Homo sapiens: one gene and its partners. The protein of the gene in region 1 purifies or fractionates together with the protein of each later gene. This does not show direct contact. Each region holds a gene or a part of one and is shown on either strand. Other genes may lie near its edges. The genes, in order: STX17, VPS39 and VPS41.

Region 1 (10,502 bases):
TACCTGGAAATATTAAGTAGAAGAAAGGTCATAGAGTAATTCATTTTTCTTGGTTGATGTGAAAATGAGAGTGTCTTTATGGCAATAATGTAAAGCATAGAGTAACTATTTTAAGCATTTGTAAAAATCATTTAGAGCTTTTAAAATATTGGCTATTTGCCATACTGTTTTAATGTAAAACTTACTCTGTATCGCCTGCCTTTGCTCTTCCTTTAAGTTAAATAAATATATTCAGATAAGATTAAAAACATTCTCAGTTGTGATAAATCTACAAATTACTTTTTAGTCCATTGACTATGGCCTTCCTAAACAATTGAAACATTTTTCCTAGAGAGGTAAAGCATTCATAGGCTTTAAAGGTAAAATAGTAATGCAGTTTTATAAAATACTATTTCAGTTATAGGTTTGGCTGAAAGGGGCATTGAGAGAACATGAACTTAGAGTTATAATTGCTTACTTTTAGGAGTAGATCAGATGCCACATGTCATCATGGCATTTCTCTGCTTATAACCCTTCAACAGCTCTCTTTGGTGTGCCAGATAAAGTCCAAAGTCTTTAACTGGTCTGCAAGGCCCCTCCTGACCATCTGTAGGCTTATACTTGTAACTTGTCTTTTACTTCTTGCTTTGTACCATCAAACTGCTGATTTACATAGCTATATTGTTTATTCCTTGAGGGCCTTTGTTCATACTGGTTTTTCTGCCTAGAATATGTATTCCTCTCTTCTTTGCCTAGTAACCTCAAGTTTTCTAGAAAGGCTTCCCATGAGTTGCATACCATATCAAACTGGATCAGATGCCACCCACAGCTCGGAAGTCTCATAAAATACTTATGTATATATTTCTGATTCTAGATAGATACCAATGCAGTCTCCTATTGTTTTATAATTTCTTTTTGTATGTCTGGCTCTTCTAAAATACAAATTCCTTGAGAGAATGTACTCTGTGTTGATTACTTTTTATCTCTGGCACCCTAACACAATACTCAGTGGGTGCTCAGAAAATGTAAGTGGTAGGTGTTTTGAGCTTGAAGTGAAGGGAAGATAGTAGAACTTCAGATCTTTTGTTTCCATTTCTACTGTAACTATCCTACAGCAGATCACCGTCATGTTACACTGGATATATTGGAAAGCCTTCAGACTGTTTTTTTGTTTTTGTTTTTATGTTATTGTTTTTGTTTTTTTTTTTTTTTTGAGACAGGGTCTCGCTCTGTTGCCCAGGCTGGAGTCAGTGGAGTGATCTTGGCTCACTGCAACCTCTGCCTCCCAGGTTCTAGTAATTCTTCTGCCTCAGCCTCCTGAGTAGCTGGGATTACAGGTGTGTGCCACCATGCCGGCTAATTTTTTGTGTTTTAGTAGAGATGGGGTTTCGCCGTGTTGCCCAGGCTGATCTCGAACTCCTGAGCTCAGGTGGTTTTTTTACTCTCTAATTTTGTCACCTTCCAACTGCATCCTTAATGTGTTTCTTACACGGTGGCTATAGTTTTCTCTGTAAATCTAAAATCTGATTATGGCACCTTCCCAGTAGTCTCCAACTATTTTTAATAGTAACATATTGATCTTTTGTGAAAAGCAAAACTGTTTAACATAGTTTACAAATGCCATGAATAATCTCAAAGTAGATTTCCAGCCTTAGACTTTGCTTTTCTCCTCATCACAGTCAGCTATACTGAACATTTTTCAGTCCCTAAGCGTATGCACATACTGTTCTCTCTGACCTGAATACTCTTTGCTTCTCCTTCCACCCCTGCACCAGTTCACCTGTGTAGTAATTTCTGTTCACCCTCAGGCTTCAGCTTCAGAGCCTTCTCTGACCACTCTCCCTTCCACAAGTCTAGGTTAAATACCTCTCATCTGTGCCCGTGTAGCACTCTATACTTACCAGTATTACAGTTCTTATTAGACTATACTGACTGAACTTGACTATTAATATGTCTGTATCATGCATTTTATGGTAAGATCTGTTAACAATAGCAGCAGCAGTAACTAATTTATTGAGCACTTGTACTTTATATATAACCCAGGTACTGTGCAAAGTAAATATCACCTTATTTTACAAATGAGAAAAACCAGCCAAAGAGATGAAATACCCAAGGCAAACAGTTTATAAATAGCCAAATCAGAATTCTAACCCAAGTCTTTCTGACTAGGCCCAGGCTCCTAACCACTACACTATGTTGCCTCCTCCGAACTGTTTTTATGGTTTGCCATTGTGTCTGCAGCACCTCAGCACACTGATCAGCAGGTAGTAGGCATTTAATAAATGTCAACTCAATGAATGAATGATTGGTAAAACCAATATGAGGAAATAAAGACTTGAAGGTAGATTTTAAAGTGTGAATTAATTCATCATCATAGCAGTGTTTAATGGGGAAAGTCCTACTGGGTTGACAACTTTTTAAAACTCAAAAGAAGTAGAAGCAATGGAGTCATGGGCCAGAAGATTGAGGAGAAGAGTAGTGACAAAAAAGACACATATGGTAATGTTTGGTGACAATCTTATTATTACCAATAGTGACTGATTATCATTAATAAAAATATATTACTTCCCTGCTTTCAACACCTTCTGTATCTGGTATTTACATTGAAATAGCCAAATAGAAGTTTAAGGATGAAAAATATTAAACCTATTTATATAGGTACGTCTCCTTGGAACATTGGCCAAGTAGAATAGTTTTCTTTTGGTGCTTCTTCCACATTTAGCCCTAGTTATTCAGATTGGATAGATAGTATTTGTAGCCATTTTTTAAATGACTGTGTAGATTAAAAAAATATGTGTGTAAGCTTGGTGTCATGGCTTACGCCTGTAATTCTAGCATTTTGGGAAGCTGAGGCAGGAGGATCAGTTGAGGCCGGGAGTTCAAGACCAGCCTGGGCAACATAGCAAGACTGTGTGTCAATTAAAAACAAAAAAAAAAATTTTAGAAAAAAAAAATGTGTTAACTAATCTGGGGAACAAGCTACCCTATGGATAAATCTTTTTTTTTTTTTTTTTTTTGAGGCAGGATCTTGCTCTGTTCACCTAGGCTGGAGTGCAGCGGCGTGATCACTGCTCACTGCAACCTCGACCTCCCAGGCTGAAGTGATCCCCCCACCTCAGCCTCCCAAGTAGCTGGGACTACAGGTGTGTGCCACTACACCTGGCTAACTTTTTAATTTCTTTGTAGAGACGAGGTCTCACTCTGTTGCCCAGACGGGTCTTGAACTCCTGGGCCCAGGCAGTCCTCCCGCCTCAGCCTGCCAAAGTGCTGAGATTATAGGTGTGAGCCACTGCACCCAGCCAAACAATTCTATTTTTGTAGAATAATCAATTTCCTTTTAGCCTAAATTTAATTAGACACCATTTAACGTGGCATTTGTTTTATGAAATCAATTTATGCTGTCTCTTTTCTAACAAAGCAAATAAACTCTAAACATGGGGTTATTATGTTCATCCAGGAGCATTTCATACTACTGAAGCTGAAGCTAGTTCTCAGAGTTTGACTCAGATATATGCCTTACCTGAAATTCCTCAAGATCAAAATGCTGCAGAATCGTGGGAAACCTTAGAAGCGGTATGTTAAAAAATGTTTTCTTTTTGGTAGTTGTGAGGCATAAAAGTAACTTCCTCTCCCTTTCTTTTAAAGGACTTAATTGAACTTAGCCAACTGGTCACTGACTTCTCTCTCCTAGTGAATGTAAGTATATAACTGTTTTGGATGCAGAATTGTTGGATTATTAGAATGAGAAGCTTTTATAATCACTAGGCTTTTAATTAGAATTTTAATAGAACTTATAATTTTTAAGACTGGTATTAAGCCATAGATAGAAGTTTAACTGTTCTCAAATTCCAGATTAATTCAAGAAACTTTTATTAAGCACTTGTTATATACAAGCAGTGTGTTAGATGCTTAACATTGAGAGTGTGGTCAGGTTGGATATAGAAATAAATGAAGCCCATTCTCTGCCTTTGAAGATTCTTGTTTTTTGTGTTTTTTTTTTTTGAGACGGAGTCTCACTCTGTCGCCCAGGCTGGAATGCAGTGGCACAGTCTTGGCTCACTGCAACCTCCGCCTCCCAGATTCAAGCGATTTGCCTCCCTCAGCCTCCTGAGTAGCTGGGATTACAGGCACGTGCCACCATGCCCAGCTAGTTTTTGTATTTTTAGTGAAGACGGGGTTTCACCATGTTGGTCAGGCTGGTCTCAAACTCCTGACCTCATGATCCACCCGCCTCAGCCTCCCAAAGTTCTGGGATTACAGGCATGAGCCACCACGCCCTGCTGCCTTTGAGCATTCTACAGTGAGTGGAGATAGGCCTGGACCCCAGAAACTGAGCTTTCAAGCATGATGGCTAAATGCAAAAGCAAGAATGAAGAGAGGTATTATCAGCTCCAAGGAAAAGCATTTAATTCCAAAGGAAGGAGGCAGGAGTCATAAGGTAGAAAGAAGCATTAAGGATAGCTTCACACAGGTAGACAGTATTTGTATGAGCCTTGAAAAATGAGTAAATATCCACTGGGGGAAGTTATGGAGTATATTTGAGAAGCTGAACAAAGACATGGAGTAGAGAAGTGTATGGCCTGTTCCAGATTGACAAGTACTGCAGTATAACCAAAGCATAAGGTACCATGGGCAAGCAAGGAGGGTGAGGGCCAGATTGTGATGGCTTTGAATGCCATGCTAAAGAATTTGAACTTTACTTTGTGGGCATTAGAAAGCCTAATACTGATTCTTGAGCAGGTTAGAGTCATGCAATTCAGTCTGTGCTTCAGAAAGATCACTGTTGGCTTTGTGAATAATGGCCTAAGAGAGGAGGAGGTCATGGAAAGGAAGACTGGTTAGGAATCAATTGCAAGAGTTCACCTGGAGCAATGGCAATACCAGTGTAAAGGTAAAGGACAGCTGAGAGATATTTCTGGGGGACTTAACAGAAATTGGAGGAAGATGGAGCCAAAGATAAGGAACATTGTCTTTATTCTGCATAATTGGGTGTCAGTGATACTGTTAACATAGATTAGGAAGCACAAAGTCAATTTGTTGGGAAAGATAGATTTTCCACCATTTTTCTAAATTGTTCTTTTTGTCTTTCTCAGGAGTTATGGGAAGGTAGGATGTATGAATACGTGTGTATGTATATTTATGTATGTGTGTCCACACAGGCATACCTGTTTCTGCTTGCAGTTCTGTCTAGGTTTAGTTCTTTGTTTCTGATCTAACCATGATTTTGGGGTTATCTTTGAGTTACGGTTTCCCTGAGATCTAATTTTAAATGAGAAGTTCCTAGATCACACAATCAGAATTGGAATGAGAAAGGACTCAAGAGGCCAACTAATCTAATCCCTCTACTCTTGCCCCAATTTCTAAAATAAATGGTCTTTTAGCCTCTTTTGGAACAATTACAGCACAAGGATATTGATACTTAAACTATTGCATTTGGAGGGTCTAACTCTTAGAAGGGTTAGAGTTAAAAGTGTCTGCCCTATAATAACTTCTTTTTGGCATTTTTGGCCTCTAAAGCTACGTACTGAACAAATTTTGCCTTCTTTCCATATGAAAGTCTTTCAAGGTTTTGAAACCATCATCTTTCCTCACTCTATCCCACCCCACCATATTTTCTTCTCTTCAGAACCCTTGCTTCTTTTGCATTCCTTCTACAATATAATTTCTAGGCTTCTCAATACTGGCTTCTTACTATGCTTATGTTCCATATTCTGAATATTTTCTTGAAATGTGTTACCTAAAATTGAATGCAGTAAATTGTTTGAATTGCTTCTGGATGCCTCTAAGTTAGAAGAAGCAAAATATTTGAAGTTTCTGGATTAGGTATCTGTACAATATTAATATACTCGCAAACAGAAGGAAATAATAGAACAAGAATCCCAAAATATCTGTTGTTTCAGAATCAACATTTATTCAACTATTGTAAACTAATAATCTCTGAATCCAGTGCAGTTTGTAAAACCTATACATGTATGGTTACACAAATATATACACTTGCCAAAAGTCATTGGTCTGTACACATAAAATGTGTTTTAATATATGTAAATTATACCTCAATAAAGCTGATTTTAAAAAACAAACTACACATGTACAAAGTTCTTACTCAGTACAAACACATTTCTTTTCTACTGGGATAGGCACATAAAAGAAATATTAAAGGTCTGTGACCATAAGATAGTTACATGTTTGATTATATTATGTAAGCAGCTCATAACCTCTAATCTAAGGGAGATTTGTGTAGGAAAACTCTGGCTGTAGCCACAGCTCTATACAAATGTCCTGTTTGTAATAATCTGTTTAAGTACATGAGACAGAATGCTAATAAGCAAAAGCTCAAAGGAGAACCCCTGATTATTATTCCCAGGGTGACTAAGTTCTCATGACCACATGGCCAAGGATTCACAGAAGCTCTATTTAGGCACAGAATGACCTAGGAACATAACCAGAGTGACCACATCCTCTCATTATCATCACATGGACATGATAGTGTCTAGACAAATTAACCATGTATTTAAGGAACACTTTCTATCTGCGTAGCACTGTGCTAAGCTTAATGAGGAATAGAAAAAAGCATTTAAAAAACTTACAAGATAGTAATAGTGGTTGCACAATATTGTGAAGTTACTTATTGCCACTAAATTGTACACTTCAAAATGGTTAAAATGGTAAATTTATGTTATATTTATTTTACCACTATAAAAAGAACTTACAAAGCCATTGACAGATCAAGGTATAGTACAATAAATGTTAATAAATTAATATCTACTAGGTACCCTGCTCTATTTTTCTTCAGCCTTTGTTGTTCAAGTGCCCTCTTCTCTCCCTATAACTTTGTAACTAGCCCTATTTCTAGTCAAGGAGAATTTAAAGAACCCTGGGCCAGTAGTTCAGTAACAACTCACCCTTGCTGCTAGTCTGTTTTGACTTCTGCCTTTTGCCTTATTCCCTGTCGTTTTTGTAATCCAGTTTTACTCTGGAAACATAAAAACTGGTTGCAATGGATTAGATCAGATTCCTTCATTTATTACCTATGTGACCTTCAGGATGTTATTTGACAACAATGAGCTTTATAACACTGATGGGAGGACTAAATGAGGTAATGTGTATTATTAAGTACTTCCCATTCTGTTCCCTTCCACTGACCCCAACTGCATTCCCACTTTTGTCCTTCCTTTATTTTCATTCCTTGTTTGGCTCCTTGCAAAAATTCTACTTTTTCCACCACTATTATCCTTAGGCATTTTAGTACTGGAATTCCTTCAGTCCCTTTCCAACTGCTGAATCCTCTGTTAGCAACATCCTACTTATCTACTCTGCTTATTGCTTACTCGAAGCCAATATAATCACTTATTTTGCCTATATATCATAGTATTTATAAGTTTGTTTCTGGGCCTTTTTGTGTATATGATTGCATATGATTAAGGAGTATATAGAATATATCATAGGAGTTTAGAACCAGAATAGCTCAATGTGAACAGGATTGGTCAAGATCTAAGATTAGAACTTGGCCTTGAAGGCTGGCTGGAATTTAGAGAGGAATAAATGGACGTACCTGGAGTTTTGGTATTACCCTCTTAAATAAACTCGTAGCTTTCCAAGAACCTTAAACTTTACAACTACTATCAGAACTCTCTATGGAAGACCACTGTTAATGATATAAATGGATTTGGGGGTTAATTTTTGAATGTATTATTATTGCTTGACATAGAGGATGCTAGGCCTACAAGTGTCCCCAACAGGCATTCAAGAACAAAACAGTTCATTGGTTTTGAATTTATATTCCCAAATTGCATTCTGCTTGACAAGTATAATAAATCACAGTTTATACAGAAACTTAGGTACTCCTATAGCTGTTCGTCAAGATTTGTTATGTTCAGGCCAATAGGGGGACTTAATTCAATGTTCTTTAAAATGAAATCCGTAGACATATTCTTAGAGTCATTTGAGAATTTTCTTTTTCTGTAAAAGGAGGTCAGTATATTACTCTAGCTTGAGAAACACTGCAGTGTAATGAGCTAAACACTTAAATATGGTTTAGCTCATTGTTAAAGGAATGCTGAGAACATATATGGGGTGCCAAACTATAAAATGGCAGGTATGGAATTTGAAGATTGTCAAATGTGGGAGGCCTAAGCAGATGAAAATAAACATGAGCAAATCAGAAGCAAAACCTCAGGGGAGATTGATAGATAGAGGTTAGGAGGCTCCTGCACCACCATTAATGTTTAGAGCTTGATTTCACAGGCTGGGGCAGGGTTGTATATGTATCTTTTGGTCCCACAAAAAGAGCCAAGGACATAGTGGACAGGTAGTGACCCAATTCAGCTCTGTATGGAGTCTGGTTTGGCATTCTGCTGATGGTAATTGACAACTCTGTGACAATAGTTTGCTGCCTAACTGTAACCTTTGTGGGGGTCAGTGAGTCCTCCTTACTCAAGAAGCAGAATTTGAAGATATGGGCAAAGTTTGAAGTTGCAAACCAAGCAAAATACGGACAAGAGAAAGGCAGACGTGCACAATCGAGGGGTGATTATTGATCCCAGGATAGGGGCTGTCTGCCCTCTGCCTTATTCCCACACCCCAGCCCCATATCTTAGCATGCTTTCTGATGGCATGAATAAATACTTATAGATGTGGGCTACTCCCCAGGGTGGGATGGGCCTCATCAAATGCTGGTGATTGCAATGATGGGGAACTTTGTAGTTCAAATAATTAGTGATCTCAGGATTGGTTTTTTGCCTGTGGTTGCTTCTTCAGTTATTCCAAATGATTTTTATGAAAAAATATTTAAATTATTTTAAAATTTTGCTTTAATTTTTAAAAAGTCATAGAAGTACAATATCCAACCCTTTTTAAAGGAAGGAACATTAGAAAGTATTTCCCTGAGGCTTTACGATTACACTTGGGGTATAGAAATGGCAATAATCCTGGCAGGCTCCTCCCTCTTGCTGGAATTATTTTGGGGCTGAAGGAAGGGAGACACTGACTATTTTTCCTCTACCTTTCAACTCATCAACATATGACGGCTGATGGTAGAGTTTTAAGCCTGTGATTTATCTGCTAGCATAGACTGTTTCAGGCAAGAGTGGAAAGTGTTGGGGGTGTCCTAAATAGAAACAATGATAGGGTGTCAGAAATCTAGACAAGTTGTATATTATTAGTGCTGGAACTTTTTCTTCTATGGGTCAGAAAAAGAAAGCTGACTTAAATAAGTTTTGCTATTGAGGAAAATAAAAATTGAATGATTGAATGAATGCTAAAAGATACCTGAAGTTTTAGTGTCCTAGAATTTTCAAGCACCGAAAGAAAAAGTTAAATATATTTTTTGATAGAGAGATGAGAGTTAACACTTCCTTGGGGAAATTAGGATAAATTTTTCTATTTTTCCCCCCTCACACTTTGCAAACACATTTTATCCCCACTTCAACTCTATGAAGGTATAAGTATCACTATTCTTACTTGATAAATGAGAATACCAACACCTAGAGAGCTTGAGTAATTTGTCTAAGAGCACATAGTGGCGTTTGCTGAGATTTGAACACAGATTATCTGACTAAAGGTGGTGCCCTTGATCTGAGCACATATAATAGTGGTTCTTAAAGTGTGAGAATTGTGGACTGGCAGCATCAGCATCACCTGGGAGCTTACTAGCTCAGGCTTCATCCCAGGCCTACTGGATCAGAAACTCCGGGGATTAGGCCCAGCAATCTGTGTTTTAAGAAGCCTCCAGGTGGAAGACTGAGAACCATTGTTAAAGTTGTCTCTCACAGAGACATTCAAAGGAAAACTGATAAGGGACTTTCTTAGGCATTGTTTTAGAGATGTCAAGATAGTGGTGGAGAATATTGGAATGAAGGGATACCACAATGGCGAAGATAGACATATTTTGTGTATGAGAAGGGAAGTAATATCAGTAATGCTAAGAGGAAACAAACATGGGGAAAAAGTAGCTGTGTGGTTTGGGCTTCATGTTTTCAAATGAAATAATGGTTGGAATTAGAAAAGTGTTGTATGTGTCTGCCTCAATATAAATGAATAGGCCAATTATATAAGGGCAATCAAACACTTCAGGATTAAAGTTGAATTATTTCACCCTCATTGCAGGTGGCATCTATCTAGGATCAAAGAGAGATTCTCTTTTTTCTGCACATTAAAAAAACAAAACCAAAATAGTCTGTAAACTGTGATGGTTGATTATATGTTGGCTTATACATTTGTTGTTTATACATTTGTGATAGTTGGTTTATACATTTGCTAAATTTCATCATACTATACCATTAAAAGCAGTACTTGTTATATGTAAATTCTATCTAAATAAAGTTGAATTAAAAATGGGAATGTGTTCCTACAGCAAGTAATGAGTTCGTGTCACTGGAGGTATCTGAGCAGAGGTTCAGTAACCACTTGTCAGGAATGTTACAGTAGGGCTTCGCACATCAGAGAGGAGATTGACCTGATGACCTCAACATTCCTTCTACCCAGAGATTCCATGAGTCACAGTTGCTGTTGTGCCAGCACAGGTG
Region 2 (10,502 bases), on another chromosome or scaffold:
GAGAATCCTACTTCCTCCAGACATCTCAAGAAAACCAATTTCTGTCATTAAATGCTCTCATTAAACATTTAAATAGAGGAGGAGAAAAAGTTTTTAAATGAAAGACCTGACACTGCATGAAAGGATTAATTCCCCCATTGCTTCATCAGATATACTTATTAGGTGGCTACACGGGCCATTCTCTTTGCTTGGGACAGTAATACAATGATGAATAAGAAACAGTGCCTGTGCTCCTAGGACACACACTGGGGGACAAATACACGTGAACAGATTATAATACTAGAGACATATGCTGCCTATTATTGCAACATGGATGAGGGGGTACCCAACTCAGCTAAGGACATATGTTTCTGAAAGGGATTAATGCAGCTGTGGCTACACTTGACTTAGCTCGTCAGAATCCTTGACTCTGATCTCCTGTTGGACCATTAGCACATAGTGCTCCTAGACTCTCACCAACTCCACTTTGTCACAGTAAAGATTCCTTGCACCTGTGGTTTTCAGGAACACAGTTTTGAAACAATAGGTAGCTTTTGGCCTTCCTTGATCACCCACCGAACAGGAGAAATGCTCTTTGGTTCCTAAGGTGCTTAGGTACATATTAGGTTACAAGAGGCCATTAACTGCCTCCTGCTTCAAAAGTGCTTTATTTCCAGATTTGAGCAGCAGTAATTATTGCTCTTTCTAGTCATTACCCCTTTTTAACTACATTGTGCCTTTGGATGGAAAGTTCGTCCAGGAACTTCCAGAGGCAGGTCACACAGGGCCAAATAGTATTTGAGGTGTAAATGTCTTAGAGACAACATACTCTGTCTCCTGGGAAATAGAAATCAGGAGAGAACATGATGAGGATGATTTCTTTCTAAACTCCAAAGTTGTATAATCCTGCTGCCTTTTCAGCATCTTCATTTGGATGTCCAGTAGCATAGCCAAAACCGTTCTTGATTCCTCTCCCCTCAAACATGCCTGTCCTCCTGTATCTTACGTCTCAGCAAGTGGCATTTCTATTTACCTCTTTGACTAAAGCCAAAAGCTTTGGAATCGTTCTTGACTTCTTTCATTCTGTTTTACACTGTATCCCATCTATCAGCAAATCTTGTGTGTTCTACCCCTAGAATAAATCTGAAATCCAGTCATTTCTCTCTATCTTGATGATTACTACTCTTGAAGGCACCATCATCTGTCACCTGAATTACTGTAGTAGTCTTCTCATTGATCACCCTATATTTGCCAGTGTGCCATTTTCAGTTTTTTGTCTACCAGGTAGAGTGAAACTTTGAAAACCTAAATCTGATTCCATCCTCTACTCAAAACCCTCTCATGGTATCACATCACAACTAGAATAAGTTCCAAAGTTTTCACCCTGTCTGGCAACATCTGACATGATCAGGCCCTGATTTCTTCCCTGTCTTCTGTGTACTTACCTCTCACTCCTTTCTGGTACCAGTCCCACACAGCCTTCTTTGTTCCATCAATGCACAAAGCACATACCCACCTCAGGGCCTTTACATTTGCTGTTTCCTTGGCCTGGCACTCACTTGCCTTTGTATATATGGTTCATTCCTCATTTCACTCAGTTCTCTGCTGAAATGTCACCCAAATCAGCAAAACCTTCCCTGTGTATCCTATATAAAAGAGATTGCCACATCCACCAATGTGCTGTTTTCTTAGCCTTATCTTCTAATCATGGGTCACCATCTACTGTTATTTTATATATTTAATTATTATTGCCTCTCTCACTCCACATTAGAATATAAGTTCCCTCAGGGCAGTATCTTTGTTTTCTGCATTGCTATATCTGCAGTACCTAAAACATTTCCTGACTCAATGGGTATTCATTAAATATATATTTAATGAATAATGTTAATATGAATAGTAATAGCTTGCAGTTGTTAAATGCTAATCTGTATTAGGCTTTTATAAAATAAGACTCCATTTTACAGAAGAAAGACCTAAGGCTTAGAAAATTTAAGAAATTTTTCCAAGGTCACATGTCCTGTAAATCATGTCTGCTTCTAGAGCCTGGTTCTCAAACTTGAATGTATATTCAAAGCCTGTAAAAAATGCAGACTTCACATGTATATATGAGTATCTGTATGTCTATATATACATACATACCTATATTTTCCAGAGAAACAATGGAAAGATAAGTCAAAAATTACTAAAATGATGCCCATAGCAGAAGGGAGAAGAGAGGATAAAATGGACAATGATAGAAACTAGACTTTTCGTCGTTTTAGCTTTGGAACTACATGAATGTTTCATAAAAACAAATAAAATTTAATTTAATTTTATTTTATTTTATTTTATTTCATTATTATTTTTTGAGACTGAGTCTCGCTCTGTCGCCCAGGCTGAAGTGCAGTGGTGCAATCTCAGCTCACTGCAACCTCTGCCTCCCAGGTACAAGCCACTGTCGTGCCTCAGCCTCCCGAGTAGTTAGGATTACTGCCACCCACCACCATACCTGGCTTATTTTTGTAGTTTTAGTAGAGACGGGGTTTCGTCATGTTGGCCAGGCTGGTCTCAAACGCCTGACCTGAGGTGATCCGCCCACCTCGGCCTCCCAAAGTGCTGGGATTACAGGCGTGAGCCACTTTGCCCAGCCAACAAGATTAAATTTTAAAATGTAAATTTCAGGGTACCACTTCAAAGCCATTGAATCTGAATCTCCATGTGCAGGGCCCAGGAATGTGCATTTTTAATAAGTCCAGGTGATTCTAATGCAGCTAATTGGGGGCTTATGCCCAGATGAGAAGTACTGTTATTTGCCATGTTACCCAACGAAGGGAAGTGACTACTATCTTACTTATCTTTGTGGTCCCTGCAGTGGCCAGCATTGGGCCAGAAATGGAATTTATTACATGAAGTTGGACTGCATTGCACTGTTGGAAGGAGCTCCATTAGGGTAATTATGAGCAATAGGGCCTAGCCCTCCTTCTCAGGAGGAATTAAGTCCAACCTTGTGGCTCAGGGTTAGGCCGTCAGGAGTTTTTTAGGGCTGATACTGCTTTGCTTATGTGTGCGTTTTGTGTTTGCTTAGTATGTCTCACTTTCTGTTGTGTGTTACTGTATTGAGTCTCAGAAGGCACTGTCCATCCCATGCTGCGCGTGCTCTGCAGGCTTGTCATCCTCTGTGTTGTGCATGCACAGCTTTGTTAAATAACGTGTCCTAGAGAGTGGAGGACCCAACATGGGACAGGTCCTCTGGCTAATGGCACATGTAATCAATCAGGTTGATTTAAAAGTTTACAGAGAATTTAATCCATCGGATTGATTCCCTTTTATGACCAGTAGAATAGACATTTTATTTTTTTAATTAATTTTTTTTTTGGAGGCAGAATTTCACACTTGTCACCCAGGCTGGAGTGCAATGGCGCACAATCTCCACTCACTGCAACCTCCGCCGCCAGTGTTCAAGTGGTTCTCCTGTCTCAGCCTCCCTAGTACCTGGGATTACAGGTGCTCACCAGCACACCTGGCTAATTTTTTTTTTTTTTTTGAGACAGAGTCCTGCCCCGTCACCCAGGCTGGAGTGCAGTGGTACGATCTCAGCTCACTGCAGCCTCTCCCTCCGGGGTTCATGCAGTTCTCTTGCCTCAGTCTCCTGAGTAGCTGGGATTACAGGCACACACACCACCATGCCTGGCTAATTTTTTTTGTATTTTTAGTAGAGATGGGTTTCCACTGTGTTGGCCAGACTGGTCTTGAACTCCTGACCTCAGGTGATCTGCCCGCCTTGGCCTTCCAAAGTGCTGGGATTACAGGCATGAGCCAACCACACTCGGCCTAATTTTTATATTTTTTAGTAGAGACGGGGTTTCACCATGTTGGCCAGGCTAGTCTCAAACTCCTGACCTCCAGTGATTCGCCCACTTCGGCCTCCGTGCCCGGCCCCTAGACATTTGACTTTTTAAAATGTTTTGTCATGTCTTAGTTTGGGTTCACAAGAAAAAAAAAAAGTAAATTAAAAAATCTATTGGCAAGAAACATTTCAATAAAAATGGAAAATAGACTCTTGAATGTCATGTTTAGGAATTTGACTTCATATTTTGGTAGTGTAGCTTCACAGGATTTTTTAAGCCCCAGTGTGACAGCATCAGAGATCTGCTCTAAGATAACTGACAGCAAATGCGAGAGAATGCATGGAGTGAATGAGACCAGTTGAAGGTGTCACAGGGGTCCCCAGAGAGACTCTATAGGAGGAGGCTGTCATGAGGTACCATTACAGGTAGAATTGATAGACCCTGGCCGACTTGGGAGGAAGCTGAGGCTATTAAAAAAGATAAAGAAAAGCAGGAACTGGCAGGGATTTGGGGGACAGAGTGGAGAGAGAAGGATGGGGAAGATGATGAACATTATGTTGGCCTTTTGTTTTGGTTGTAGATTTTTATGTATGTTATGAGTGGATTTTTAAAAAATTTCCACTTCATTTTATTTATATCTGAAATATCAGTGGGTGGCCTAAAAATCAACTTTAATATTGCTAAATTGCTTGATATCATGATATCTATAAAGTTCTAAATATAGTATCTTTTACAAAACAAATATTGCAAAATGAATTCTTTTATTTTTTCATGTTCTGCTGCAGCATAAATCTCCAGCCTTCATTAGAGCTGCTGTTATTTCTGATTTCAACATTTTTTTTGTGTGTGACCTGCCTTTCCTTTAAGACCCCAAATCAAAGAAAATAGAATCACTCTGTTTTTCTGGATGACTAAGAACATCATCCTGGAGAAATACTATTGATCCTTTGGATAAGGAATGTAGGTGCTGACCTGTTTTTATAAATATAACTACTGCCATTCAGACAACCTTTGGCTGACACCCATTTTTTTTGACATGGGTGCCTTAGTAAGTACATCACAGCATGTGGTTGGGAATCAAGACAAATTGGGGTTGGGATCCCAACTCTGCTGCTTGCCACATGTGTGACTCTGGAAAAGTTATATATTCCCTAGGCCTCAACTTCCTCATCTATAAAATGGGGATTTGAAAAAAGGACTTACTTCAAGGGATAGTTGTGAGGATTAGTGAAATAACAGATGCGTTTAGCATTTCCTGGAACACAATACATGCTCAATAAAAGTTATCTATTTGTACCATTATCCAAGATTTTATTTTACAGAGGTCAAGAATCAAGAGAGTTTATGAAAGGAATGAGTGACCTTTATGTTATCAAAAAGCTAAGGAAGTATCTGTACATGCTTACCTTCCTTGAATGATGTAATATGGGTCTGTCAGGGTAATTATTTAAACTCTTTCTGAGCCTCTTTTTACCTAGACCAGTGCCTCCCAAAATGTGGTCCTTGAACCACCAGCATCAGCATCATCTGGGAAGTTGTTAGAAATGAAAATTCCTGGGCCTACTTTTAAACCTACTAAATCAGATGCTCCGGGGTAGAGCCTAGCATTCTGTATTTTAACAAACTCTCAAATAATTGTGATACACTAAAGTTTAAGAACCACTAGCCTAGACCATCTTTTAAAATGTACAATTTGGCTGGGCACAGTCGCTCACCCCTGTAATCCCAACACTTTGGGAAGCTGAAGGGGCATTGCTTGCGGTCAAGAGTTGGAGACCAGATTGGGCAATATTGTGAGCCCTCATCTCTATAAACATTTTTTAAAAAATAGCTGAACGTGGTGGTGCATGCCTGTATTTCTCGCCACTCAGGAGGCTGAGGTGGGAGGATCACTTGAGCTAGGGAGGTGGAGGCTGCAATGAGCCATGATCACACCACTGCTCTCTAGCCTGGGCAACAGAGTAGAACCCTATCTTAAAAAAATAAAAGTTAAAAAAAAGTGTACAATTAAATGGTTTTTAGTACATTCACAGAGTTATGCAACTATCAGCACAATAAATTTTAGAACATATTCATCACTTTCAGAAGAAACTCAGTACCCATTAGTATTTACTTTCTATTTTCCCCCAAGCCCACCAGCCCTGGGCAACCGCTAATCTTTCTACCTCTGTGGATTTGCCTACTCTGGACATTTCATATAAATGGAATCACGTGGCCTTTTGTCTGGCTTCCTTCAGTTAGCATCATGTTTTTAGGTTCATCTGTGTTGTAGCATATATCCATACTTCCTTTCTTTTCATTGTTAGCTAATATTCCGTTATATAGACATGCCACATTTTGTTTATCCGTTCATCAGTTGGTGGACATTTGGTTTGTTTCCATCTTTTAGCTATTACAGATAATACTGCTGTGAACATTTGTGTACAAGTTTTTGTGTAGAATATGTTTTCATTTCTGTTGGGTGTGTAACCAGGAGTGGAATTGCTGGGTCCCAGGGTAACTCTGTTTAGCCTTTTGAGGAGCTGCTAGACTTTTCCAAAGTGGCTCTCCCATTTTACATTCCTGCCAGCAGTGTATGAGGATTCTAATTTCTTTATATTCTCATCAACACTTGTTATTAAATATTTTCTACTAGACTATCTTTTGAGATAATGAATTCTGTAAGCTTATTATGTTACGTCATTTATTTTCCTGAAAGTAAAAGCATTTAAAGGATGCCTCTTAGCTATTATTGCTGAGGTTGGATACCTGGTTTCACATTTGTACTTCCATTTTGTGATTTTATAAACTTTCATCATATTCTTTTTAGCAGAATTTAAAAATATATATCTGAAGATATATATCTTAATAAAAGTATATATAACAAAAAATAAAAATCATAATAATTTAATCTTAAAAATACAAAGCCCTTCTATCTTTTTTATTAGTTTAACATTAAAACAATTGAGCCAGGACATTTTTATCCTCTGATATGTCTAGCCTAGTAATTATTCAATAAATGTGTTTTTAAATGGTTGATTTTCAAACATGAGTATAAACATTTCTTAGCTTTGCAAAACACCTCCTATCAAAAGCAACTCATTTTCTTGACACATTGATTTCTGATTACAAGCCCCAGCTAAAAAAATAGGGTTATACTCAAGCTGATTGACCTTTCTCAAAGCTGGTTTTTTTTTGTTTTTGTTTTTGTTTTGTTTTGTTTTTCCAGAGGAATGGCTTCTTGTGGGAACCAAACAAGGACATCTTCTTCTCTATAGGATTCGGAAGGACGTTGGTAAGTGCACATTGCTCATGCAAAAAAATAAGTTTTAATAGTCAGCTAGTATACAACTGTGAAATCAGTTATTCCTGGACCATTAAAAGAGAGATTGAAGGTTAGAGGGAGCACGGTGGGAAAATGGGGAGAAGACTTGAGAATGCCTAGGGTTTTTCTCCTCCAAATTGTATTGCCCTACCTGCATTTGGGAGGTGAGGATGAATTGCTGGTTTACTTATTACTGAATTACTTATTACTGGTAGTGAGTCTCTAAGAAAAGAGGAGGTGGTTGTTTTCCTCCTCTTTTCTTTGAGACTCACTACCAATAATAAGAAATACTACTAATGGGCATAAGCTTCCTGTATATATGGTGTGGTGGTAGGAAAAAAAATTAGGCAACATCGATTTAAAATATCTTGTTGGCTTATGAGGGGTAGAACAAGAAGAGAGGACCAGGGTTTGCCTTCATGTGCACTTCCCCCTGGCTGCGTGACCGTGAGCAAGTTCTTTCCAACATCAGTTTTCTATAAACTCTCTGCCCCACAAAGTTGTTGGGGTGGATGCAATAATAGGCTCGAAGAAACTGTGAAAACTAAAGTTCTAATCAAATGTGACTGTCAGTAATGTAGAGTAATAACTAAAGTATTTGAAATGTATTCTGTTAAAGAGTGTTTTTTATTGGGGCAGAAAGTACCTCACTGCCCTTCCTTGTTTTCGTTTCTGTGCTCTCTTTATGGAGAATAGATGTGTTTAGGTATTATGCCCTGGAGCCACTCTACAGAAATCTGCAGTTAATTTCATACCCTTCAATATAATATATATTTCTCTGGTAAATAGCTTAAGAGATAGCTTAAGATAAATAGAGCTCTCTTGTGGAACCTGGAGCAAGGGTAACACTGGGGGAAAAAGCACCTTACTAGTGCACTCGGGAAAGAGAAGATATCCTGGTCAGTTTCTGCAGCAGGGTAAGAAAAGAAACCAGAGAACAAAATAGATAATTTATTTCATTTCTAAGTTTTTCAACTGTCCTCTAAATCAGGGTCAGCAAACTTGTTCTGAAAAGGTCCAAAGAATAAATATTTTAGGCTTTGCAGTGTTGTTACTACTTAACTCTGCCTTTGTAACATGAAAGCAGCTGTAGGCAATATGTAATGAATAGGTATGGCTATGTTCCAATAAAACTTTATTTACAAAAACATGCAAAGGCCTCAGTTAGGCCCTGGAGCAGTACATTGTTGATCTTTGTTTTAATGTTTTAAATTTTTAATTCTCATGGCCTGTGAAGTGGCTCATGCCTATAATCCCAGCACTTTGGGAGACTGAAGTAGGAGGAATGATTGAGGCCAGGAGTTCGAGGCCAGCCTGGGCAACATGGCAACACCCTGTCTACAAAAAATTAGCTGGATGTGGTGGCACGTGCTTATAATTCCAGCTGCTCTGGAGGCTGAGGTGAGAGGATCGCTTGAGCCCAGGAGGTTGAGGCTGCAGTGAGCTATGATCACACCATTGCTCTCCAGCCTCAGCAACAGACTTTGTCTCAAAAAAAAATTTCTTTTTTTAGTTCTCGGAGCCAAAATATTTGCGTTCTGTGATATTTGCCTGGTCTATAATTTTAAAATTAAGCTCACATTTTAATTTTAAAGCTAAAAATGCTTATCTTATTCAGCATTCAACAATTGTTTTTTGACTCTCTGCTTTGCTTTCACATGTAAGTGGTGATCAGAAATTGAAAACAAGACTTTATAAATGAAGTCTCAACACAGTATAGACCTGAACTGGTAATATTAGTGTTAATCTGGCTTGGAACCCTGGTGGCGACTATTCCTTGCCCTATGATCATTTTATCATGTCACCTTTGACAAATTAGTTAATGTTCCTGGGCCTTGGTTTCGCCATAGGTAGATTAAATATAGACAATTAGGAAATCAAATTCTGATTTGAAACTTTTCTTCAAGAAATGCCATTTTTCCCTATACTCTTGGTGAACAGTTTAGTTCTGGCCCAGATCTGGCCTGATGTGGGCCAGAAATAGACCTGGGCCCGTGTGAATTAGTTCTAGGGTTAATTTGGTTTCCAGATTTGAGATATTTCAAGCCTAAATAGGTCTTTGGGTAGACTGTCTTTCTGAGGAAAGGGAGGGGATAATAGGGTCAAGAAAAGACTAGGGGTAGGGATCGTAGGCTCTGATCTGATCTGAGTCATTTCCCTGGAGCTCAGTTGAGCCAGTGACATTTTTATCCTCTGATATGTCTAGCCTAGTAATTATTCAATAAATGTGTTTTTAACTGGTTGATTCTAAAATATGAGTATAAACATTCCTCAATAGACATCTCTAGGCTTCATTCTGCTCCTTTATTTTTTGAGACAGGGTCTTGCTGTGTCGCCTAGGCTGGAGTGTAGTGGCGCTATCTTGGCTCACTGCAGCCTCAACCTCCTGGGTTCAAGCCATCCTCCCACCTCAGCCTCCCAGGTAGATGGGACCACAGGCACACACCACTATGCCCAACCCATTTTTGTATCTTTTTTTTTTTAGCATTACTTAGATTTTTTCTTTTTTTTTTTTTAGGTTTTTTTTTCCACTCTTTTTAATTATACTTTAAGTTCTAGGGTACAAGTGCACAACGTGCAGGTTTGTTACATATGTATACATGTGCCATGTTGGTGTGCTGCACCCATTAACTCGTCATTTACGTTAGGTATATCTCCTAATGCTTTCCCTCCCCCCTCCCCCCACCCCACGACAGGCCCCCAGTGTGTGATGTTCCCCTTCCTGTGTCCAAGTGTTCTCATTGTTCAATTCCCACCTATGAGTGAGAACATGCAGTGTTTGGTTTTTTTGTCCTTGCAATAGTTTGCTGAGAATGATGGTTTCCAGCTTCATCCATGTCCCTACAAAGGACATGAACTCATCCTTTTTTATGGCTGCATAGTATTCCATGGTGTATATGTGCCACATTTTCTTAATCCAGTCTATCATTGATGGACATTTGGGTTGGTTCCAAGTCTTTGCTCTTGTGAACAGTGCTGCATTAAACATACGTGTGCATGTGTCTTTATACTAGCATGATCTATAATCCTTTGGGTATATACTCAGTAATGGGATGGCTGGGTCAACTGGTATTTCTAGTTCTAGATCCTTGAGGAATTGCCACACTGTCTTCCACAATGGTTGAACTAGTTTACAGTCCCACCAACAGTGTAAAAGCGTTCCTGTTTCTCTACATCCTCTCCAGCACCTGTTGTTTCCTGACTTTTTAATGATCGCCATTCTAACTGGTGTGAGATGGTATCTCATTGTGGTTTTGATTTGCATTTCTCTGATGGCCAGTGATGATGATGATGAGCATTTTTTCATGTGTCTGTTGGCTGCATAAATGTCTTCTTTTGAGAAGTGTCTGTTCATATCCTTTGCCTACTTTTTGATGGGGTTGTTGGTTTTT
Region 3 (10,502 bases), on another chromosome or scaffold:
TTTCACAGTAGGAAGCCATTGAAATCTGATGACGGTAGTAGGGCTTTATTATACCATTTTTTTAAAGCTAAAAGTGTATAAAAATGGAGAAAATAGGGCTGCGTGCGGTGGCTCATGCCTGTAATCCCAGCACTTCGGGAGGCTGAGGCGGGTGGATCACCTGAGGTCAGGAGTTCGAGACCAGACGGGCCAACATGGTGAAACCCCGTCACTACTAAAAATACAAAAAAATTAGTCAGGCATGGTGGTGGGCGCCTGTAATCCCAGCTACTCGGGAGGCTGAGGCAGGAGAATCACTTGAACCCAGGAGGCAGAGGTTGCAGTGAGCCGAGATTGTGCCATTGCACTCCAGCCTGGGTGACAAGAGGGAGACTCCATCTCAAAAACAAACAACAACAACAAAAAAACCCCCAAAAATGGAGAAAATAACTGTTCTATTGAACTTTTTAGAAAACTTGGCATACATTTTTTTCTTGGTATCATGTATCATAAATGCCAGTAATCTCCAGGATTAGCAACACAAAACTAAATGTCTCCACATTATCTTTCGTGAGTGTTGTTTCTTTGGTGATTGCTCCCCTCCCCATTTATTTTCAGAAGAACCAAAATAGTGACATCTGCACTGAGTTATTGTGGTATAAAACAGCTCAGAGGATCTGAAACTAAAACCACTTTTTAGGTATGAATGAAAATTTTTTTATAAGTCACTGGGAAATTCTTGCTTTTGCCTAATATGGTAAAGGTAGTTGTCAAAAGTAACTACATATATATTTTATAGTTTACAGAAAAAATGAATACCCTGCATTCTGCCTGGAAATCTTCTAACCAGCAGTTTTGCTTAGCTCCAAAACGATTTATAGTTGACCTTCATATTCACAGATGCCCAACAGTATTTGTCCATATCTTTCTTATGAATAACATTCTGCTTGAAGTCTGGTTGTTTGTGTATTTGTCTTATCTCTCCTAGAGATTGCTGAGTCCTCAAGAATAAGAACAAGAACTTACTCATGTCTGTATCTTCCACAGGGCTAGTGCTTTATAGGTACTAAGTGTTTAGTAAAGTGTTTAAATGAATTTATTAGGGGGAAAATAGCATTTCAAATTGTCAAATTGTATATTAGTAGGATTTGCGTGAAATTATTTTATCTTACTTGCACCTTTTTTAAGTTATTAATTCAGATGTAATGTGGATTACATCTATACTATAATGTAGGTTACATTCTATACTTTCTTTACTCTTGCCTGCTCCCCAGGTACCCTTTGATCTTCCTAATCAACCAACCTGGACCCTGGTCCATTAAAGTATTTCCACGATTAGACCATCTATTTCTTAATCAAGTAGGAGAGTTTCTACTTTGAATTCTCCTTCTGCATTTTAGAAATTAGGGGAATTCTGTCCTTATTGTAGATCACTTATGGATTATTAGATGTCATATTTGTCATGTATATCCCCATGTGATTATGTTACAATAAAAATCAAATCAATACAAATTTGAGTGCTTCGATTTTCTTGCCTGTAACTGGGAATTTTACTCTCTAAAACTTTTGTGAGTATGAAGTATGTTAAAACTTTTGTGAATATAAAGTATGTTAAAGTGGCTAGGTTGAAATGGTTGTATAAATAAGACAGAGGTTAATCATCGAAACCTGGACTTGGCTTACGTATGCACAATTCTCTTTTCTTACAGTTTGGCTAAGATAGATATTTTAAAGGCAGTGTTACTACTAACTAAAGGAAAAACAAAACCCAAACAAGAAGTTTTAAAAGTATAGAATCAGACAGATTTTAGAGGGTGCACTCTTTCCCATCATGTAACTAAAATGTAGTCACAGATTAGTTTTGCTGGACTAGCGGATTGCTTTGTTAGTTTTTCCACTTATCTTCACCTGAATTGGTCGGCTAGAGGCCACTTCACTAGCTGATTATTAGTAGCCTCCGCCGCGCCCACATTAACACCTTGGAGAGAGGACACTCATCAGATCAGGGGCTTCTGTGTCTCATGCTACTTCCCATTCATGGCTGTGCAGTCCCCTGTTGCCTTTGTTTCTTCTTGATGCCTGGGCCTCCTTATGGTTTTTTTGTTTTTGTTTTTGTTAAAAATGGCTTGTGATTCCAGGCTCTTATTTTAAACCTACTGAATCAGAGTCTGTGCAGATGGAGTGTGTTAGTGGGTATTAGCTAATTCCCCAAACTGAGTTTTGATGATTCTCATGCAAAGGCAGATTTGGGACTGGGTCACCTGGTTACCAAGTTTGCCCTCTTTTCCACGCTGGGGCACACGTCAAGATTTTTCTTCATTTGCAGAATAAGATGAGTGCAGTAGCTGAGCCCAGTAGGCTGAATGGGCTTGGTAACCTGAGTCCTCATCTTTACTACTCAACCAGCCTAGTCCCTGAGTGTCTAAAGCTGGCCACAACTCCTTTGAGGTTTTTTAAATTGAAGCTCTGTGACAACAGGGATATCACATACATACCACACAAAATATTTCCTCCTTCCTGTGCCTATATCAGACAGTGCCTATATCAGAACTCTCTTTCTCATTATGCTCAGCTAGGGCGCATAGTTTGTTGGGAAGACAGAGAAGGTGGCAGTACCTCAGTGAGTGTTCACATGTACCTCCAGGCATAGATGGAGATAGATGATTTCTTGGAGCCTGGTCTCTGCTCTTTTTTTTCCTGCAACACAGACCCAGGTGAGCCCTCCTGCAAAGTTTGGAGTGGCCTTCCTTAGGCCCCAGGCTACCATTTCTCCCCCAAATTCTGTTTTTCTTCCCCAACAGTATGTGGGCACTTACAATTCTGAGGACTTCACAACCCAGGCAAGTCCTGGATCCTCTCTGTCCTGGGCTGACAGTCTTCCTTTTCACCACTCCTGACCTCTGAGGCCAGCTGGGCCAAGCCTTCTCCCAGGCCATTGTCATAGGGTTCTATGCTGATGGGAGGATTAGGGATGGGGGCTGGTTGAAAGCCTGTATGAGAGAAGTCTTCTAGGAGCCCAAGGAATTGTTGGAATTGCTGCATTTGTTGGAAGGTGCTACCTTCCTGCAGTTCCCTTTCTGTAACTGTCCTACAGTTCATAAGCTAATAATTCAGACATGAGTCTGGAGAAAATATGCTTGGTATTGCTCATAAGGGAAAGGCAACATATGGAGGAGGAAGAATTTGTTTTAGATTGGCAGCTTGTCTCATCATCATCACCAGCAACATGTTTTTCCAGTAGGATACTGGGAGACAAAGAAGGCAAAGCCTTTGGGTTTATCCACAGCATATTTAAAATGAGAACTTGTAGGACAAGGCAGTTAATATTAGGTGCTAGCTGAGGGGTACGGGAAGAAACGTAAAAACCAAGCTCTGATATTGAAGAGAGAGTGAATGTCCTCAGGCTGAGTGCCTGGCAACCTCTCCCTGGGGTATCCCTGAGAGACCCACTGAGCCTGTAGAGCATTCCATCAGGATGAGTGCAGGATGGGGCCAGGGGCCTTCTAAATGGAGGGAGTGACATGAGGAAAGTGCAGAGCAGGCAGCACAAACTCAGGCAGGCAGGGGGTGGTGCACATGAGCAGGCGTGCCTTGGTGTCAGAAATTGGGAGTGGTGGGGGTGGTGGAGTGCATTCTGTCCTGGGTGTAACCGCTCAGCTGCAACTGATGGTATGTGGAAGTGTGGATCTTATGTAGACATACAGTCAGGAGTACAGGTTTTTATATGGAAGCTTTTTTAAAAACACCACCTAGGCCAAACAAAACACCTGCAGGCCATATCCAGACCCCAGGCCACTGATTTGCCACTTGTGGCACAGAGATATAAGCAATATCTCGGCGAGGGGTCCTCCAGTGTGGCTGGAGGGTCACAGGTTTGTGGAGAGAGTGGGGAGTGAGGCTAAAGGTCTGTTGGGGGCCAGACTGGGAAGGACTTTGACTACTTTGCTGGGGAATCTGAAAGCTATTCTTCAGGCTGGAGCACTACTGAGGGTTGTTTGAGGAGGGCAGTGGCCGTCTGGTCTGTGCTTTGGGAAGATAATCCTGATGGCAGGTGATGAGTACATTAGAGAGGCCACATGTCAAGGCACAGAAATCACACAGTAAAGCTGTTTGGGTAGGTGGTTGGGCTTAAGGGATTGGTTTGCAAAAGAAAGGTAAAATGAAATGTTTCTGAGTTTAACTGTCAATCCGTTACCCAGAATTGGCTCAGATAGACATTTGTGTCACTGGGTATCTTCCAGCCTATCACTTTTGCTTTGATCAACAGCACTTTATTATAGTAAAATACACATAGCATAAAATTACCATTTTAACCATTAAAAAAGTTGAAAACATTTTTTTTTGTAGAGACAGGATCTTTCTGTGTTGCCCACACTGGTCTCAAATTCCCTGGCCTTAAGCAATCCTCTTGCCTTAGCCTCCCAAAGTGCTGGGATTACAGGTGTGAGCCACCCCCACCTTAACCATTTTTAAGTGTATGATTCAGTGGCATTAAATACACTCACATTGTTGTGCAACCATCACCACTGCTGTAGTTGTGATGTTTGTCCACCTAAAATCTCATGTTCCCCAGTATTAGAGGTGGGAGATCTAATGGGGGCAGATCTCTCACGATGGCTTGGTCCCATCCTTGAAATAGTGAGTTCTCTTTCTATTAGTTCCCAAGAGAGCTGGTTGTTAAAAAGAGCCTGGCACCTCCCCATTGCCCTCTTTTGCTTCCTGTCTTGCCATGTGATCTCTGCATATGCCAGCTACCCTTCAACCTACTGCCATGAGTAGAAGCAGCCTGAGGCCCTCATCAGAAGCAGATGCTGGTGCCGTGCTTCTGGTACAGACTGCAGAACCGTGAGCCAAATAACGCTCTTTTCTTTATAAATTAACCCGCCTTAGTTAGGTATTCCTTTAGAGCAACACAAATGTACTAAGACAACCACTCTGCCTCTCTAGAACTTTTAATCATCACAAACTGAAACTCTGTACCCATTTAACAGTAACTCCCCACTACATCCTCCCTCTGCCTTTGGTAACCTCTGTTTTACTTCTGTGTTATATAAGTGGAATCATGCAATATTTGTCCTTTTGTGTCTTGCTTATTTCACTTTGAAAACAGCATAATTTATAACTTACATTTCAGGATTTGAAGTTAGATTCTTTAAATGAGAGTGTGAAGCTAAAAAAAAAGTTTGAAAACCACTGACTCATTCTCAAATTGTTACCTTTCTCAAAGTTCAGCCTTCTTGGATTTCTTAATGAGGACATTTACTTTACGTCTTCTTTGCCTTTCTCTCTCTAGCATATTAATTAGAGGGCTTGATGAATGAATGAAGCTAAGAAATAACAGACCAGCCTAATTCTTGACATCACTCATGCATTGCTTTGGTAGGATTGTGGAAACAAGTTTTTTTTGAGATCGCCTGTCTGTGTGAGATGTTCGTAGTGGTGCTGAAGGCAAGTCTCAGAGTTTCCTAGAGTAAATGTTCTCCATCAATTCCATAGCCAAAGAAGCTACTCTCAGAGCCCAGTTTTCCCTGAAGATTCAGGTCTCAGATCTTCCTGCCTCACGGTGTCAAATTCTGGCACTGCATGCTTTCTGGTGTGGAGAAAGAGTGTAATTTGATTTTGAGTTTTTGGATTGAAATTGCTGGTTGGAGACTTCTGTTTTTTCTTTTTTAATTTACATACATTTAATGGGTACAGGTGCAATTTTGTTACATATATTGCATAGTGGTGAACTCTGGGATTTTAGTGTCACTGTCACCTGAATAATATATATTGTATCCATTAAATAATTTTCTCATCATCTACCCTTCCCAGTCTCCGTGGTCTGCCATTCTCTACTCTTTGTCCACGTGTACACATTATTTAGCTTCTACTTATAAGTAAGAACATGCATATTTGACTGTTTCTGAGTTGTTTCACTTAAGATAATTTTGTTTTGTTTTGTTTTGTTTTAATCGAGACAGTGTCTTACTCTGTTCCTCAGGCTGGAACGCAGTGACGCAATCACAGCTCACTGCAGCCTTGACCTGCTGGGCTCGAGTGATTCTTCCGGGTTCAAGTGGTCCTCCCAAGTAGCTGGGACTACAGGTGCATGCCACCACACCTAGCTAATTTTCTTTTCATTTTTTCTAGAGATGAGGTTTCACCATGTTGGCCAGTCTGGTCTTGAACTCCTTACCTCAGGTGATCCACCTGCCTCGGCCTCCCAAAATGCTGGGATTACGGGCGTGAGCCACTGTGCCCAGCCCAGATGTTTTTGTTTTAATGAAGAACATAAATGGGGTATTCACCCATTTACCTCATGTGCATACTTGAGTGGATTCTATATGAGGAAAAAAAAATTTCCTTAGGTTTAATGTGATTTTCCTGAAAGAGTACTCAAGTGTCTTTTTAGAACTGTACATACAGGAAATAGGAATCTTAAGTGTGGTTTATTGGCATAGTTATCAAAGCCTTGTATTGCTGATGCTAATAACATAATATTCAGCGACTCACAGAGATGGAAAGGATGTTAGAAGTCATTAAACTCAACCTCTAAGCCTCACTCTTCCAACCCCAGTGGTGTTAGGAAAGTTTATAATGTTGTGGGTGGTGAATGGAACATAATGAGCAGTTTATAATAGATGTTCAGTAAAGAAGTCAGAATAGTGATTGTTAATGTTAAAGTGGACTATGTCCACAAGAGAAGGATCAGTACAGTAAGAGGACTAAAACCAGGAACTGTGATGGTGAGTGCAGAGGAGAAACATTTTAGAAGGTGGAACATGATACATGTCATTAACTCTCTGGACAGCTATCATGTAGTGCAATAATTGTTTTTTTTATGTAGTGCTAAGAACAAAAATGTTACTGTGGATTATTGTAGCTTCAAATGAATAAGAACTTTATGAGACTTGGATTGACATTAAGCTAAACAGGCTGCATTGAGTTACAGAGGAGATTCTAATATTCATTGTGGTTAATGATACAAGTATAATAAAATTCTTAATTACAAGGAACATATCCCCATTTTACCCATGGCCTTTGAAGGCAAGGACTGTGTTGTCCTCCAGGCTGTACTTTGGAAGGTGCCTGCCACCTGTCAGGCTCTTGCTAATTTTTGATGAATGAAATTAAAATGATTTTAAACACTAGATTTACATTTATCCCGCTGTCCAACTTGTATTGAGTAATATATGCATCGATCTTCCTTAAAATGTTCATTTTTTTCTTGAAAATGTATTAGTTATATCTAAAATGTCCTTGCCCCATTTTTTTCTTGTTCTTTGTTTATCTCATGGATTGTTGTAAAGTGCTTACATTCAGTGTCAGCATATTAGTTGTAACCTTTTATTGCTATTGATATCTATAAGTACGTTAAGTAAATCTTCATTTTGCTGACCTCTTTGAGGATGCATGGCATCAGCAGATTCTCTCTTTCACTGGACAGGTGAGAGATTAGCAGGATCAAGTCAATTTTTCCCTTTTTGCTTTGTTTCCTTCAGAGCAGCAAGATTCATTGTCTAGCGAGAGGGAAACTGTGTTAAATGGCAGAATTTGTCTTAGTGGTGATGGTTTAAAGAGTGCATGTAAATTATACAGCTTGTTTACACAGGGTCTGATAGGTACCACTGTAGGAGATTCTTTTAAAAAGCTATTTTAGCAAGACAGTCATTTTAACTCAACCAGATTAATAGCATGATAATTAATAGCACAAGAACTTTTCAGTATAAAAATTGGCTTGTAGATAACATGAGATGGCAGTTTCCTCTTCCCTTCTGAGATTAGTGAGGCTGCTTTGCCAGATGGGTTTCCATTATTAACAAGGGAGAGAGTCTTCCAGGCCCTCAGATGATAAGTTCCTGGGGTAATTTGTTTACCTGTTAACTCTTTGAGGGAGAGCAGCAGGATCTGCCTGCCAGGGTGTGGAGAAGTTGCAGGAGACATGTGAAAGTCAGAGCATGTGGTCCTCTAAAGTATAGTTGTAGATTCTCTTCCAAAAAGGGCAGATGCGTGGTAGTAGGAACATGAGGACTCTTTCCCCTTGCAAATGATTATTCTTTTATCATCTCTTCTGACCATTTTCTTTTTCTATGCTTTATAGGAAACTGGGTCCCTTGAAGAATCTACAGATGAGTCTGAGGTAAGGTGGTGACTCAGGAGCCCTCGGATTTGTAGCTCACCACGTTGTTCTCTTGAGTTGCGCTTCTTTGCTAAATGCAACATTCCCAGGGGCTGAGGGTGTAAAGCAGGGCGATAGGTAACTAAGCCTTGGGGAAGAGCTTTTAATATGCCAGCTATCTTAAAAAAGATTAAATGGATTAGCTTAAAAAATAAGAAAAGGAACAAAAAGTTTTCATCTGAAACAATATTTTAACTTGAAACATGTTGGCAGTTGGAAAATTGATACAAAGTTTTAGAAATTTATCTCAACACTTTAACATCCCCCTCACCTGCTTTTTAAAAATAGCCACTGTAGGTTTTATGATGTTTATTCTTTATTTGTTCTTTTAATGAATGTGACATGTTTGTTGGTATAATTTTTGAATCATTGAAATTGGAGTTTGCTTCTTTTTTTTTTTTTTTTTTGAGACGGAGTCTCGCTCTGTTGCCCAGGCTGGAGTGTAGTGGCTCCATCTCGGCTCACTGCAGGCTCCGTCTCCCAGGTTCACACCATTCTCCTGCCTCAGCCTCCTGAGTAACTGGGACTACAGGCGCCCGCCGCCACGCCCAGCTAATTTTTTGTATTTTTAGTAGAGGCAGGGTTTCACCGTGTTAGCCAGGATGGTCTTGATCTCCTGACCTTGTGATCCACCCGCCTCTGCCTCCCAAAGTGCTGGGATTACAGGCGTGAGCCACCGCGCCCGGCCTGGAGTTTGCTTCTTAAAAAGGGAGCTACTTTAAAAGTTGTTAGGTTATTGTGATAAAGATAGTTTCTTAAGGAGAATAATATATAAGGAAGGAGTTTTTAAAAAATTTATTTTCAAGTCTGCATAAGAAATGTTTAAGCATAATATAAATTTTTTTTTTTTTTTTTTTGAGACAGAGTTTCACTCTTGTCACCTAGGCTAGAGTGCAATGGTGCAGTCTGGGCTCACTATAACCTCTATCTCCTGGGTTCAAGTGATTCTCCAGCCTCAGCCTCCCGAGTAGCTGGGATTACAGGCGCCCACCACCATGCCCAGATAATTTTTGTATTTTTAGTAGAGACAGGGTTTCACCATGTTGGCCAGGCTGCTCTCAAACTCTTGACCTCAGGTGATCCGCCTGCCTTGGCCTCCCAAAGTGCTGGGATTATAGGCATGAGTCACTGCACCTGGCCCAAGCATAATGTAATTGGCTTATCAATTTTATAGATGGACTCATAAGAAGAATTACATTTTTCCTTTTAATATTTCATTTCGCTCAGAGGAATGAAAATGTATCTGTGATAACCTGCTAGAAATACACACTGATATGACTCTAGCCATGATAATCTATTACATTTGGGTTGATACTGCATAAGCTTATGTGAATTTTGTTGCTTTTCCAGGGAAAAGTTGGACTTATGCATATTTCTCTAGAGAACAGATTATATATCAGGGATGTCCAATCTTTTGGCTCCCCGGGTCACATTGGAAGAAGAATTGTCTTGGGCCACACATAAAATACACTAACAATAGCTGATGAGCTAAAAAAAATTGCAGCAGAAAATCAAACAGTGTTTTAAGAAAGTTTATGAATTTGTGTTGAGCTGCATTCAAAGCCATCCTAGGCCATATGTGGCCTGCGGGCCATGGGTTGGACAAGCTTGTTATGTATTATGTCATTGTGTAGTCATGGTTTCTAACATTTTCATTAATAAGGATTTCCATTACTGTGGGGCTTCTGGTAAGGCATTTCTGAGTTTGCTTATAGATAGGGTATATTTGTTAATTTCTCATACAGTATTGAAAAGCATTTTAGGTTACCTTATTTTGGAAATCTCTAATTAACTAAGATTCCAGTGTTCTTAGAATCATTGGTACAGAATCAGACAGTGCTGGAACTCTGTTGAGGAATTTCATTTTGCAGGTGAGGAGGGTGTTGGCAGCCACCTAAATCTAAATCTTTCCACACATGCTCCAAATACTAAACAGCTCAACAAAGAGTAAATAAAAGCACACACAATCTAGGCCTCTAGTATAATTAGCAAATGGGGAGTAATACAAACTTCAGTGCAAGTGGGAAAATAAACATCCAAAGCCAGCAGAGTCGGCTCTGGAGTTGACGCTGGAGCTGACAGTCAGATGGAGACTGGGTAGAAATAAAGAGAGTACAGCTGAGACCCAGCCGAGGCAGAATGCACATAAAAATCATCTTAGTGAGAAGGGGGCCCCATTCTTAGTGGGGAGATCTGAGAACAGATGTGAGACTTGGTGGATTTCGAGAATTTAAAGAAAGGAGCTTGAAAGTGTATAGGGCTTTAGGTGACAAGAGTTGGATGGTGCTGCTTTTGGCAGAGATGGGGGAGGCATCCTTAGCGGCTTGGCAGTGAAAGAAAAGGACAAAGCAGAGGAAATTAA

What was found.
Region 2: the proteins of STX17 (region 1) and VPS39 purify together in Homo sapiens (affinity purification with western blotting; 2 studies listed by BioGRID and IntAct, with this or other methods). This does not show direct contact.
Region 3: the proteins of STX17 (region 1) and VPS41 purify together in Homo sapiens (affinity purification with western blotting; 2 studies listed by BioGRID and IntAct, with this or other methods). This does not show direct contact.

The regions. Positions count from the first base shown.
Region 1 is NC_000009.12:99,956,481-99,966,982, forward strand, and holds part of STX17 (syntaxin-17), read left to right. Parts: intron 1-3,436; coding exon 3,437-3,552; intron 3,553-3,624; coding exon 3,625-3,675; intron 3,676-10,502. UniProt on the Homo sapiens protein: SNAREs, soluble N-ethylmaleimide-sensitive factor-attachment protein receptors, are essential proteins for fusion of cellular membranes.
Region 2 is NC_000015.10:42,196,474-42,206,975, reverse strand, and holds part of VPS39 (vam6/Vps39-like protein), read left to right. Parts: intron 1-7,014; coding exon 7,015-7,080; intron 7,081-7,309; exon of another isoform or gene 7,310-7,406; intron 7,407-10,502. UniProt on the Homo sapiens protein: Regulator of TGF-beta/activin signaling, inhibiting SMAD3- and activating SMAD2-dependent transcription.
Region 3 is NC_000007.14:38,895,690-38,906,191, reverse strand, and holds part of VPS41 (vacuolar protein sorting-associated protein 41 homolog), read left to right. Parts: intron 1-8,062; coding exon 8,063-8,101; intron 8,102-10,502. UniProt on the Homo sapiens protein: Plays a role in vesicle-mediated protein trafficking to lysosomal compartments including the endocytic membrane transport and autophagic pathways. Acts as a component of the HOPS endosomal tethering complex.